Linked DNA regions of Homo sapiens. Each later gene encodes a partner of the first gene's protein in a complex. Each region holds a gene or a part of one and is shown on either strand. Other genes may lie near its edges. The genes, in order: TAF13, TAF12 and TAF4.

What was found.
Region 2: TAF13 (region 1) and TAF12 share a complex: the UniProt entries of both Homo sapiens proteins name them as parts of the TFIID basal transcription factor complex.
Region 3: TAF13 (region 1) and TAF4 share a complex: the UniProt entries of both Homo sapiens proteins name them as parts of the TFIID basal transcription factor complex.

Annotation. Positions count from the first base shown.
Region 1 is NC_000001.11:109,065,853-109,069,503, forward strand, and holds part of TAF13 (transcription initiation factor TFIID subunit 13), read right to left. Parts: intron 381-3,651; coding exon 283-380; intron 1-282. UniProt on the Homo sapiens protein: The TFIID basal transcription factor complex plays a major role in the initiation of RNA polymerase II (Pol II)-dependent transcription.
Region 2 is NC_000001.11:28,632,921-28,636,571, reverse strand, and holds part of TAF12 (transcription initiation factor TFIID subunit 12), read left to right. Parts: intron 1-3,651. UniProt on the Homo sapiens protein: The TFIID basal transcription factor complex plays a major role in the initiation of RNA polymerase II (Pol II)-dependent transcription.
Region 3 is NC_000020.11:62,010,328-62,013,978, forward strand, and holds part of TAF4 (transcription initiation factor TFIID subunit 4), read right to left. Parts: intron 2,608-3,651; coding exon 2,488-2,607; intron 1-2,487. UniProt on the Homo sapiens protein: The TFIID basal transcription factor complex plays a major role in the initiation of RNA polymerase II (Pol II)-dependent transcription.

The DNA.
Region 1 (3,651 bases):
GGAGGTTGCAGTGAGCCAAGATCGTGCCATTGCACTCCAGTCTGGGCAACAAGAACGAAACTCCATCTCAAAAAAAAAAAAAAACAAAAGGAAGAAGGGGGGATAGAATATACATGTATAACCTCCATCCTCAATGATAAATAGTAACCAATAACTTCTGCAAACAAGCACTCAAATGGATAGCTTATTTCAAAGGGATGCCATAAGTTCTAGTCTTACCTAAAGTTTAATATTTCAAATCTATTCTTCAATTAACTAAGACCAGTTAGGAAAGAATCTTACCATTTCAGTGATAAACTCTATGACAAGATCTTCAAGAATATCCACTGACTCAGTATAAGGATTCTGGTCATCCCCAAAGCCATACATCATACATCGCACTGTAAAAGAACAATCACTTACTTTTGTTTACTTTTACAGATTTAACAATTTGATACTTTAAAAAAATAAAGTAGAAATGAACCAAGTTATAGATAATATTGGTATGAAAACATATTTACATCGTATTTGTTATCTCCAAGTATGGATTCTTGTGTAAAAGGTTTAAGAACAGTCTGATGACCAACTGTTCCCACGTAGCCTCCAGCAAAACTCTTCCTTCCTCCCACCTACTGAACCCTAAGGTAAACAGTCTTTTCCTAATCTCTAGCATCTACTTACCAGTCCCTGCCCCCAGCAGAACACCTTTAAGTAGGAAACTCTGGCAAAGGACAGGACAGACAGCAACAGCTTAGCCTTTTTTGGAGGTGGTTTTTGTGTGTGGGCATGGCAGTGGGGCGTTGGAAAAACGGCAGACTCTTTACTGATATTACCATAGGGGAAAAGACATGAGAGACAGTTCTCCAAATACTTTTTTTGTTTGTTTGTTTGTTTGTTTTTCTTGAGACAGAGTCTCGCTCTGTCGCCCAAGCTGGAGTGCAGTGGCACCATCTTGGCTCACTGCAAGCTCCATCGCCTCCTGGGTTCACACCATTCTCCTGCCTCAGCCTCCCGAGTAGCTGGGACTACAGGCACCCACCACCACGCCCGGCTAATTTTTTGTATTTTTAGTAGAGAAGGGGTTTCACTGTGTTAGCCAGGATGGTCTCGATGATCTGACCTGGTGATCTGCGTGCCTCAGCCTCCCAAAGTGCTGGGATTACAGGCGTGAGCCACCGCGCCCAGCCCCAAATCTGTTCTTATAGGAAGAAACAGGGTACTCAAAATGAGAAAGCAGAGGGCTTACTACAAGGAATTTTGACATTTCCTAGATCAATACAACTGCAGCAAAGCCCTTTCAGGCTTCATCTGAAGAAACCATAGGAAATGCAAAGGATAAGTCTAGGTCGGGTGCAGTGGCCCACGCCTGTAAACCCAGCACTTTGGGAGGCCCAGGCAAGTAGACTGCTTGAGCTCAGGAGTTTGAGACAAGCCTGGGCAACATGGCGAAACCCTGTCTCTACATAAAAAACAAAAATTAGCTGGGCGTAGGCCTGGATGGTGGCTCACGCCTGTAATCCCAGCACTTCAGGAGGCTGAGGCAGATCACTTGAGGCCAGAAGTTTGAGATCAGCCTGGCCAACAAGGTGAAAACCTGTTTCTACTAAAAAAAAAAAAAAAACACAAAAGTCAGCTGGGGGTGTTGGCACATGCCTATAATCCCAGCTACTCGGGAGGCTGAGGCATGAGAATCGCTTGAATCCAGGAGGCAGAGGTTGCAGTGAGCTGAGAATGCGCCACTGCACTCCAGCCTGGGTGACAGAGGGAGGCTGTGTCTCAAAAATAATAATAATAATAAGAGAGACTGTGTCTCAAAAATAATAAGAGAGAAGTCTAATACAGACAAATAAAAATAACTGCCAAAAGATAAAACATATATAGCCCTTATTATATGCCAGGTACTGTCTTAAGTCCTTTACATATATAACTCATTTAATCCTCACAATGATCCTTTAAGGTAGAAACTATTGATTATCCCCATTCTATAGATGAGAAAATTAAAGCACTGCAGTAACTGATTTACCCAAGGTCACAAAGCTAGTAAGAGATGGAACCTGAGTTTGAACCCAGCTGATCTGGTTCGCGTCTTTACTCATACCCACAACAGCATCGCACTTGTTGGTAGTTGTAGTTTAGGGCAGACAGGATCCGTGTGAATTCTTTTTTTTGCTCTCCTTTTTTGAGACAGTCTTGGCTCTGTCGCCCAGGCTGGAGTGGTGTTGCAGTACAGCTTGCTGCAGCCTCAACCTCCCTGGCTCACGTGAGCAGCTGAGACTACAGACACATGCCACTATGCCTGGCTAATATGTGGGGTTTTTTTTGAAACAGAAGTGTCACTGTGTCACCCAGGGTGGAGTGCAATGGCACGATCTCAACTCACTGCAACCTCCACCTCCCGGATTCAAGAGATTCTCAAACTTTAGCCTCCAAGTAGCTGGGATTACAGCCATGCGCTACCACACCCAGCTAATTTTTTTGTATTTTTTAGTAGAGTCAGGGTTTTGCCACGTTGCCCAGATAGTCTTGAATTCCTGGCCTCAAGTGATCTGCCTGCCTTGGCCTCCCAAATTATTGGGATTACAGGCCTAAGCTACCACACCCAGCCATTTAAAATTTTTTCTAGAGACAGGGGTCTTGCTATGTTGCCTAGGCAGTTTTTGAACTGGTTTCTAACTATTTATTTATTTTTATTTTTTCGTAGAGACAGGGTCCCACCTTGTTGCCCAGGCTGGTCTTGAACTCCTGGACTCAAGTAATCCTCCTGCCTTGGCCTCCCAAAGTGCTAGGATTACAGGTGTGAGCCACCACACCCAGCTGAGATCCACAGAGGTTCTTATCCTATCGCCTATAAACTCCCAGTCCAGAGACAAGCTTTAAGAAGTCCTTGAAGGCCAGCGCGGTGGTTCACGCCTATAATTCCAGCACTTTGGGAGGCCAAGGTGGGCGGATCACCTGAGGTCGGGAGTTTGAGACCAGCCTGACCAACATGGTGAAACCCCGTCTCTACTAAAAATACAAAAATTAGGGGGGCGTGGTGGCACGCACCTGTAATCCCAGCTATTTGGGAGGCTGAGGCAGGAGAATAGCTTGAACCCAGGAGGCAGAGGTTGCGGAGAGCTGAGATCATGCCAATGCATTCCAACCTGGGCGAAAGAGGGAGACTCTGCCTCAAAAAATAAAAAAAGAAGTCCTTGAGACTACCCTGAAATCATACGGAAAAATTTTATACATTATCTGTACATGGGCATTTTTCTGGGAATAATTATAACTTTTATCAGATTATCAAAGGGGTATATGTAAATGGTAAGAAATGCTGTCAAATGCTGGAAGTGTTCTGTATCTTGATCTTAGTAGTGATTACAAGTGTGTGAGTGTGTGTGTGTGTGTGTGCGCACATGTATACAGTTGTCCCTTAGTATCCTTGGGAGCTTGGTTCCAGGACCTCCCGTGGATACCAAAATCTGCAGATGCTCAAATCCCAGATATAAAATGGCATAGTATTTGCATATAAGCTAAATACATCCTATGTATATTTTAAATCATCTCTAGGTTACTTACAATACCTAATACAATGTAAATGCTATGTAAATAGTTGTTATACTATACTGTTTAGGGAATAGTGACAAGGAAAAAAGTCTATACATATTCAATAGAGGCACAGTTTTTTTTTCT
Region 2 (3,651 bases), about 80 Mb from region 1:
GTGATCCTCCCGCTCAGCCTGCCAAACTGCTAGAATTATAGGTGTGAGCCACCAAGCCCACCCTGTACTTCATTATTAACTTAATTTTTTCAGATGAGAAAATTGAGGCATAAAGAGATTATGTAGCTTGCTCAATACAGCTGAAAAGTGGCACAGTTGGTACTTAAACCCAGATACTGCTACCATGGTTCATATCCTTGACCACTGTACTATACACTATACTACCTTTTGTTGTTGTTAGAGACAGGATCTTTTTGTGTTGCCCAGGCTGGTCTCCAACTCCTAACCTCAAACAGTCCTCCCATGTTGTCCTCCCAAAGTTCTGGGATTACAGACGTGGGGTCCCACATGTGGCCTATACTGCCTTTTTGATAAGTCAAAAGCAGCTGGAGCCTCAACTAACCAATCCTAATTGCACACTGGAAAAAAATCTTGCATTTCTATTGCTCTCGAGTCTCACAGACTGCAAATAATTGATCCTTTTTAGCTTATTTAGGCTGGGAAATATGAGCTCATTTAGATACATTTAGAAGCCAGAGAGGAAAGAAACAGCCAGGTAGAAAAACCAGTCATTAAGTGAAGTCATGCACCACAGTATAGGGCTTTTATGCCATCAGGCCAGTCCTCTTGATTCCAGTATTTTGCTTAAATAATAAATTACTAAACATTTCAGAGGTAAAAAAAGGTTTTGAAGGCTACCTTTTCTTCTGTTCCCCTTTCTCTTCACCTTTGTTTTGTTTTTTTAAAAAAAAAAAAACAGTTAATGGAATAGATGCACAGAGAATACCAGGGTCTTACAACTATTGCCAAGGTCTCCTTAATTCCTACCCTATGAAAAATTAGACCCTCTCAATACAATAATAGGGTTGCAGCTAGACTTCTGTTTGAAGTACAAGGTTGTTAAAGGGAAGCAATTAGGGCTTGTCATCCTCAGCCAGTCAACCACAGTTTAAAAGGAGGGAGGATAGGCCGGGTGCAGTGGCTCATGCCTGTAATCCCAGCACTTTGGGAGGCCGAGGTGGGCAGATCATGAGTTCAGGAGATTGAGACCATCCTGGCTAACACGGTGAAACCCCATGTCTACTAAAAATACAAAAAATTAGCCGGGTGTGGTGGCAGGCGCCTGTAGACCCAGCTACTCAGGAGGCTGAGACAGGAGAATGGTGTGAGCCCAGGAGGTGGAGCTGGCAGTGAGCCAAGATTGCGCCACTGCACTGTAGCCTGGGCGACACTGCACTGTAGCCTGGGCGACACAGTGAGACTCCATCTCAAAAAAAAAAAAAAAAAAAAAAAAAGGAGGGAGGATAGATGTGGTTTTTTTTATTTATTTATTTATTTATTTGAGACGGAGTCTTGCTCTGTCGCCCAGGCTGGAGTGCAGTGGCGCGATCTCGGCTCACTGCAAGCTCCACCTCCCGGGTTCGCGCTATTCTCCTGCTTCAGCCTCCGGAGTAGCTGGGACTACAGGCACCCGCCACCATGCCTGTCTAATTTTTTGTATTTTTTTTTTTAGTAGAGGTGAGGTTTCACCCTGTTAGCCAGGATGGTCTCGATCCTGACCTCGTGATCCGCCTGCCTCGGCCTCCCAAAGTGCTGGGATTACAGGCATGAGCCACCATGCCTGGCCTACTTATTTATTTTTTAGATGGAGTTTTGCTCTTGTTGCCCAGGCTGGAGTGCAATGGCGTGATCTCGGCTCACTGCAACCTCCACCTCCCGGGTTCAAACAATTCTCCTGCCTCAGCTTCCCGAGTAGCTGGGATTACAGGAATACCCCACCATGCCCGGCTAATTTTGTATTTTTAGTAGAAATGGGTTTTCTGCATGTTGGTCGGGCTGGTCTCAAACTTCCGACCTCAGGTGATCTGCCCACCTCGGCCTCCCAAAGTGTTGGGATTACAGGCGTGAGCCACTGCACCTTGCCTAGATGGGTTTATTTAAATTGAACTCTAACCCATACAATCGTGTTTTGATAGAATTACTAAATATTTTCAACAACCAATCACTGGGGGGTGGACTTTCCATATTTACTTTGTGACTCATAGCACACAATTTCTACATAGTAGGTAATAGTAAGGGTTAATTATTATTGTTCTCTCAAACTGTCCCACAGTTAATGCCTGTTTTTTGTGGGGTTTTTTTTTTTTTTTTTTTTTGAGATGGAGTCTCGCTCTGTCGCCCAAGCTGGAGTGCAGTGGTGTGATCTCGGCCTACTGCAACCCCTGCCTCCCGAGTTCAAGCTATTGTCCTGCCTCAGCCTCCTAAATAGCTGAGATTACAGGCAAGCGCCACCACGCCTGGCTAATTTTTTTGTATTTTTAGTAGAGACGGAGTTTCACCATGTTGGTCAGGATGGTCTCGAACTCCTGACCTTGTGATCCACCTGCTTCAGCCTCCCAAAGTGTGGAGATTACAGGCGTGAGCCACTGTGCCCGGCCAGTTAATGCCTGTTTTTGTTTTTGATTTTTATTTATTTTTTATTTATTTGTTTGAGACAGTCTCACTCTGTCATCCAGGCTGGGTTGCAGTGGCGCAATCTCGGCTAACTGCAACCTCCACCTCCTGGGTTCAAGTGATTCTCCTGCCTCAGCCTCCCGAATAGCTGGGATTACAGGCACGCGCCACCACACCTGGCTAATTTTTTTTTTTTTTTTTTTTTGAGATGGAGTTTCGCTTTCATTGCCCAGGCTGGAGTGCGATGGCACAATCTCGGCTCACCGGAACCTCCGCCTCCCGGATTCTAGCGATTCTCCTGCCTCAGCCTCCCGAATAGCTGGGATTACAGGCATGCACCACCATGCCCAGCTAATTTTTGTATTTTTAGTAGAGACGGGGTTTCACCATGTTGGTCAGGCTGGTTTAGAACTCCCAGCCTTAGATGATCTGCCCACCTCGGCCTCCCAAAGTGCTGGGATTACAGGTGTGAGCCAACATACCCGGCTAATTTTTGTATTTTTAGTAGAGACGGGGTTTCACCGTGTTAGCCAAACTGGTCTTGAACTCCTGACCTCAAGTGATCTGCCCGCCTCAGCCTCCCAAAGTGCTGGGATTACAGGCATGAGCCACTGCACCTGGCCCTGTTTTACTTTTTAAAATTTATTTTCGGTTGGATACAGTGTCTCATGCCTGTAATCCCAGCACTTTGGGAGGCTGAGGCGGGTGGATCACCTGAGGTCGGGAATTCAAGACCAGCCTGGCCAACATGACGAAATGCCATCTCTACTAAAAAATGCAAAAATTAGCCCAGCATGGTGGCACGTGCCTGTAATCCCAGCTACTCTGGAGGCTGAGGCAGTAGAATCGCTTGAACCCGGGAGGCAGAGGTTACAGTGAGCCAAGATTGGGCTCCTGTACTCTGGCCTGGGCAACAGAGTGAGATTCTGTCTCAAAAAAAAAAAAAAAAAAAAGTAGGCCGGGCTTGGAGGTGCATGCCCTGTAATCCCAGCACTTTGGGAGGCCGAGGCAGGTGGATCACCTGAGGTCAGGAGTTCGCGACCAGTCTAACATGGTGAAACCCCGTCTGTACTAAATAAAAAAAAAAATAGCTGGGCATGGTGGTGTATACCTGTAATCCGAGCTACTTGGGAGGCTGAGACAGGAGAATTGCTTGTACCTGGCAGGCGGAGGTTGCAGTGAGCTGAAATCGTTCTA
Region 3 (3,651 bases), on another chromosome or scaffold:
GTGCTGCTGGGAGGCCTGCCCTGTGCCCTGACGATCGCAGTCCTGAGCGGGTGAGGAAGGCATGATTTGCACCTGCATCAAAAACGGACGTTCACAAAGCCAGGCACTGCAGAGACCCCAGTCCTCAGAAGTCCATGGAAAAAGTCACATAGAGACCAGAGTAAATAATCCTAACAGGCAACCCAGATCCCCATCTCTCAGAAATCAAAACAACAAACAGAAGAACGGCTCCTGAAAGCTCCATCCTCCCAGGTGCAGAGGCTGGCTACAGGGCGGTCAGGGCTCCACAGCCGCAGCCTCCCATAGGGGAGGGTCCCCAGCTCCCTGCAATCACCCAAACCCACCTTTCTTTACTCCCCAAAAGTGAGTGTCAACAAGAAGCCTCCCACAGAGGGGAGTTTTCAGAGCAGATTCGAGCAATGGAGGATGGGTCATCAGTGTCAAACTGTCAGAAAGGAGGGGCTGCTTTGCTAAGCAAATGAACAGCCAGACGCCAAAAGGTAGCTCAGACAACTCAGTGGCCTGTACTCGATTCCTAACATTTCCATTCTACATGAATAATCAGAATGCAAATGTTTACTGATATTTTAAACTAGTACTTTTCCAATGTATAAATCTAGCAGTCAACATTTTCTGTCTCCAATTTTTTAAACACTCCTTTGCAACTTCTGAAAGCAGGGGGCAGTGTAAGCCTGAGAATGGCTCCGGAGCAGCGAGCTCTCTCCCGGTGGGTGCAGCCCCGCCAGCACGTGGGAAGCAACTCTGAACCAGCCCCGCTTCCAGAGGGGTGCGGATGGGCTGTGAGGAGGCAGCAGGGTGGAGGGACTGTTTCTAAGTCTGTGTATCTTTTCACTTGTAACAATAAGCATGGATTTTTTTTTTAACTGAAAAACATCAAATAAAAACCTCCAGTGAAGAAAACATAAAAGGACACACCAAGCTGCTGCTTCTGGACCCTGGGAGTACCCAGGACCCACCTCATCTTTTGGGAGTCTTCTTTCCCATCAAAACTGACTCCTCACACTTACTTCCACTCCTAAGAACACATATTTCACTCAGATGATATCCAGATTGTGTCTGCCACTAAGTATAATGCAAAAACTTAACCATAAGCTCCAACTACCTTCTCAAAAAAGTCACTGTAACCAAAAATCCAGACGCACCAATCAGAGCACAGGACTGAGCAAGCTCCTTCAGGGAAAACACCAAGGGCGGGGCCTGCACCAAAGGCCAGCACACATCTCCCTGGTACTGAACCGCCCTTCCACCCACTTTCACCCACTGCAGCTGCAGCCAGCCAGGACATGACCCAGTGAGGGTAGAAGAGCCGGGGTTGCGGGGGGAGCTGCCCCTGGAGTCCACACCCCCTGGGGCTCAGCCTCCATTTCACCACTGAGCAATGGGAAAAGGGCCTGTGGCACTGAGGCAAGGACTCTGGATCTCTCTGCAGAGCGTCCAGGCCCACTGCCTGGCTCATGGCAGGTGCTTCACCAGCAGCGACCAACACCATAGAGACCTACGCATCCACGGATGCTCACAGACACCAGGTGACCAAGAAAAACCCCTGAACCATTTTTCTCCCAGCTGCTTCCTGCTGACTGCCCAGAGAAAGCTGCTTCCCTCACCAGGTGCGTCTGACCGGCCAGCCCCTTCCCCTCCACACACCTCCGCCACCCCTTCCAGAACAGCCTGGCCTGCACACAAACCCTTCTGGGATCTGCAGGCCAAAGGCTGAGCTGTCAGGAGCATCAGCACCACTAGGAGAGGGGCCAGCACCTGCTCTGGGACACGCTCCTCTCTGCAGATGAAAACGCTGTTCTAGAAACCAGCGGCCACCAGGGTGGATACAGAACCCTTCTAGAACGATGCTCTCACTACAGACGAGGGATGTGAGCGGCAGGTGGCAGCGTGGCGTGGCAGGCACCGTGCAGGTGGCATGGCCGGGAGTGAGTCCCAGAGCCTCCCTTGCCTCAGTGTAAGCGCCGCACCACGAGATGAAGGGAGCGATGTCATCTGCTTCCCAGGGTGCGGTGAAAGTTACGGTCCATGTGCCTGCAACAGTGAGAGCGACGCCTCGGCCACGTTCACCTTAGCGACAGCCGCCGTCCTCAAGTTACACACAAGGCCACATGTGCACACACACACTGTCCTCACCGCAGGCTGCTTCTGCTTCAGACATGCCTTATGATCAAGTACTAGTAAGGACATAGTTTTAATGCTTCCAACATGGTGGAAAGCTTGAACAGTGCTGCTGGTGTTAAATTCTGTGTGACTAAAAAAAAGAAAAAAGAAAAAAAGAAATCCTGACTTATCCCATGTTGGTGGTCAAAGAAAAAGCACTTTCTTCACAGAGAACCTTCCTCCCCAGATTTGACGTAGTATCCAGTTTAAAAAAAAAAAAAAACTCCTAAGGCCTGATCTCTGCATCAAAGAAATCACACTTCGTGGCCCCTGCAGCCTCAAGAGATCCGCCGCCTGCCCTCTCACCTGGACGCCGGGCGAGCGCTGCAGGGTTGCACTGGGCTGCACCGTTGTCTGGGCCTGAGACACTTGCTTAATTATGGTAGTTGGGGTCACCTGCCGTGCAATGATAGGTGTTCCAGGTGCCTGAAAAATAAGCAGAGTCACCTAAAACGAGCGCAAGTAAAAGGAATTCCCACCCCCAGGTACACAGAAATTATTCCTTCCATATGTAACTAGTATATCCAAGTGGGTCCCAGGCTTATCCGTGATCTGCAATGAAGCCACTGTAATTCTAAAGTTTTCTTACCAAAGAACAAGTGTATGACAAACATTTTCCTATACTACAATAAACATATCATTAGGCTTCTTAACAGAGTCTACAAAAGGTCATCTCTGAAGAACGCAGGTATCTAGAAATCAATCCTCGTGCTGCTGGCTTGTGACCTCGTTAACAATCACTAAAAAGGATGCAAAGGCAGACGGCCAGTCAGTGTCGCAAAGGGGTAGGGAGGTGGCCGCCCCTAGGCTAGATGGCCAGTCAGTGCCAGAGAGGGGAAGGAAGGTGGCTGCCCAGGACAGAGGGACGCCACAAGTCCTGAGCCCATGAAGTTTGTCGGAGAGAGACTGACATGGAAAGAGCAGATGGCAGACTGCAATGGGATGCCCACAGTGCAAGTGAAGCCACGAGTGTCTTCCACAGTGTCCCACTCAGCAGACAGATGCTGCAGACTTGAGGACACCGTTCTGTGCTACTTCAGATCTGGGTGGTCTCTGGCAGCCTCCGGCACGTCCGTCCACGTCCCTGTCTATGGGACAGAGGCACAACTCCAGAGGGTACGCAGCTCACGTAGCAGGAGAAGGATGCTGATCAAGTCATTCCAGTCTTCACAAACCTGCCAGGTCATTCAGAGCAGCAGCATCACAGTGCCAGGGAAACACGGCAGGAGACGGGGCAGGAACACGCAGCGTGCGGGCACGTGCAGGTGACAGTCATGGGGCCAGACACAGACACACGCCGGGAGAGGCAAGTCCTGGGCACTCTGCCCTCCAAGTCAGAATCCGTGCTCCCTACCACAGCTCAGGGGTCGGGAGCTTCGGCCCTGAAGGCTGACGCGGGTGTGTGTGTGTGTGTGTGTGTGTGTGTGTGTGTGTGTGTGTGTGAATCCGTGCTCCCTACCACAGCTCAGG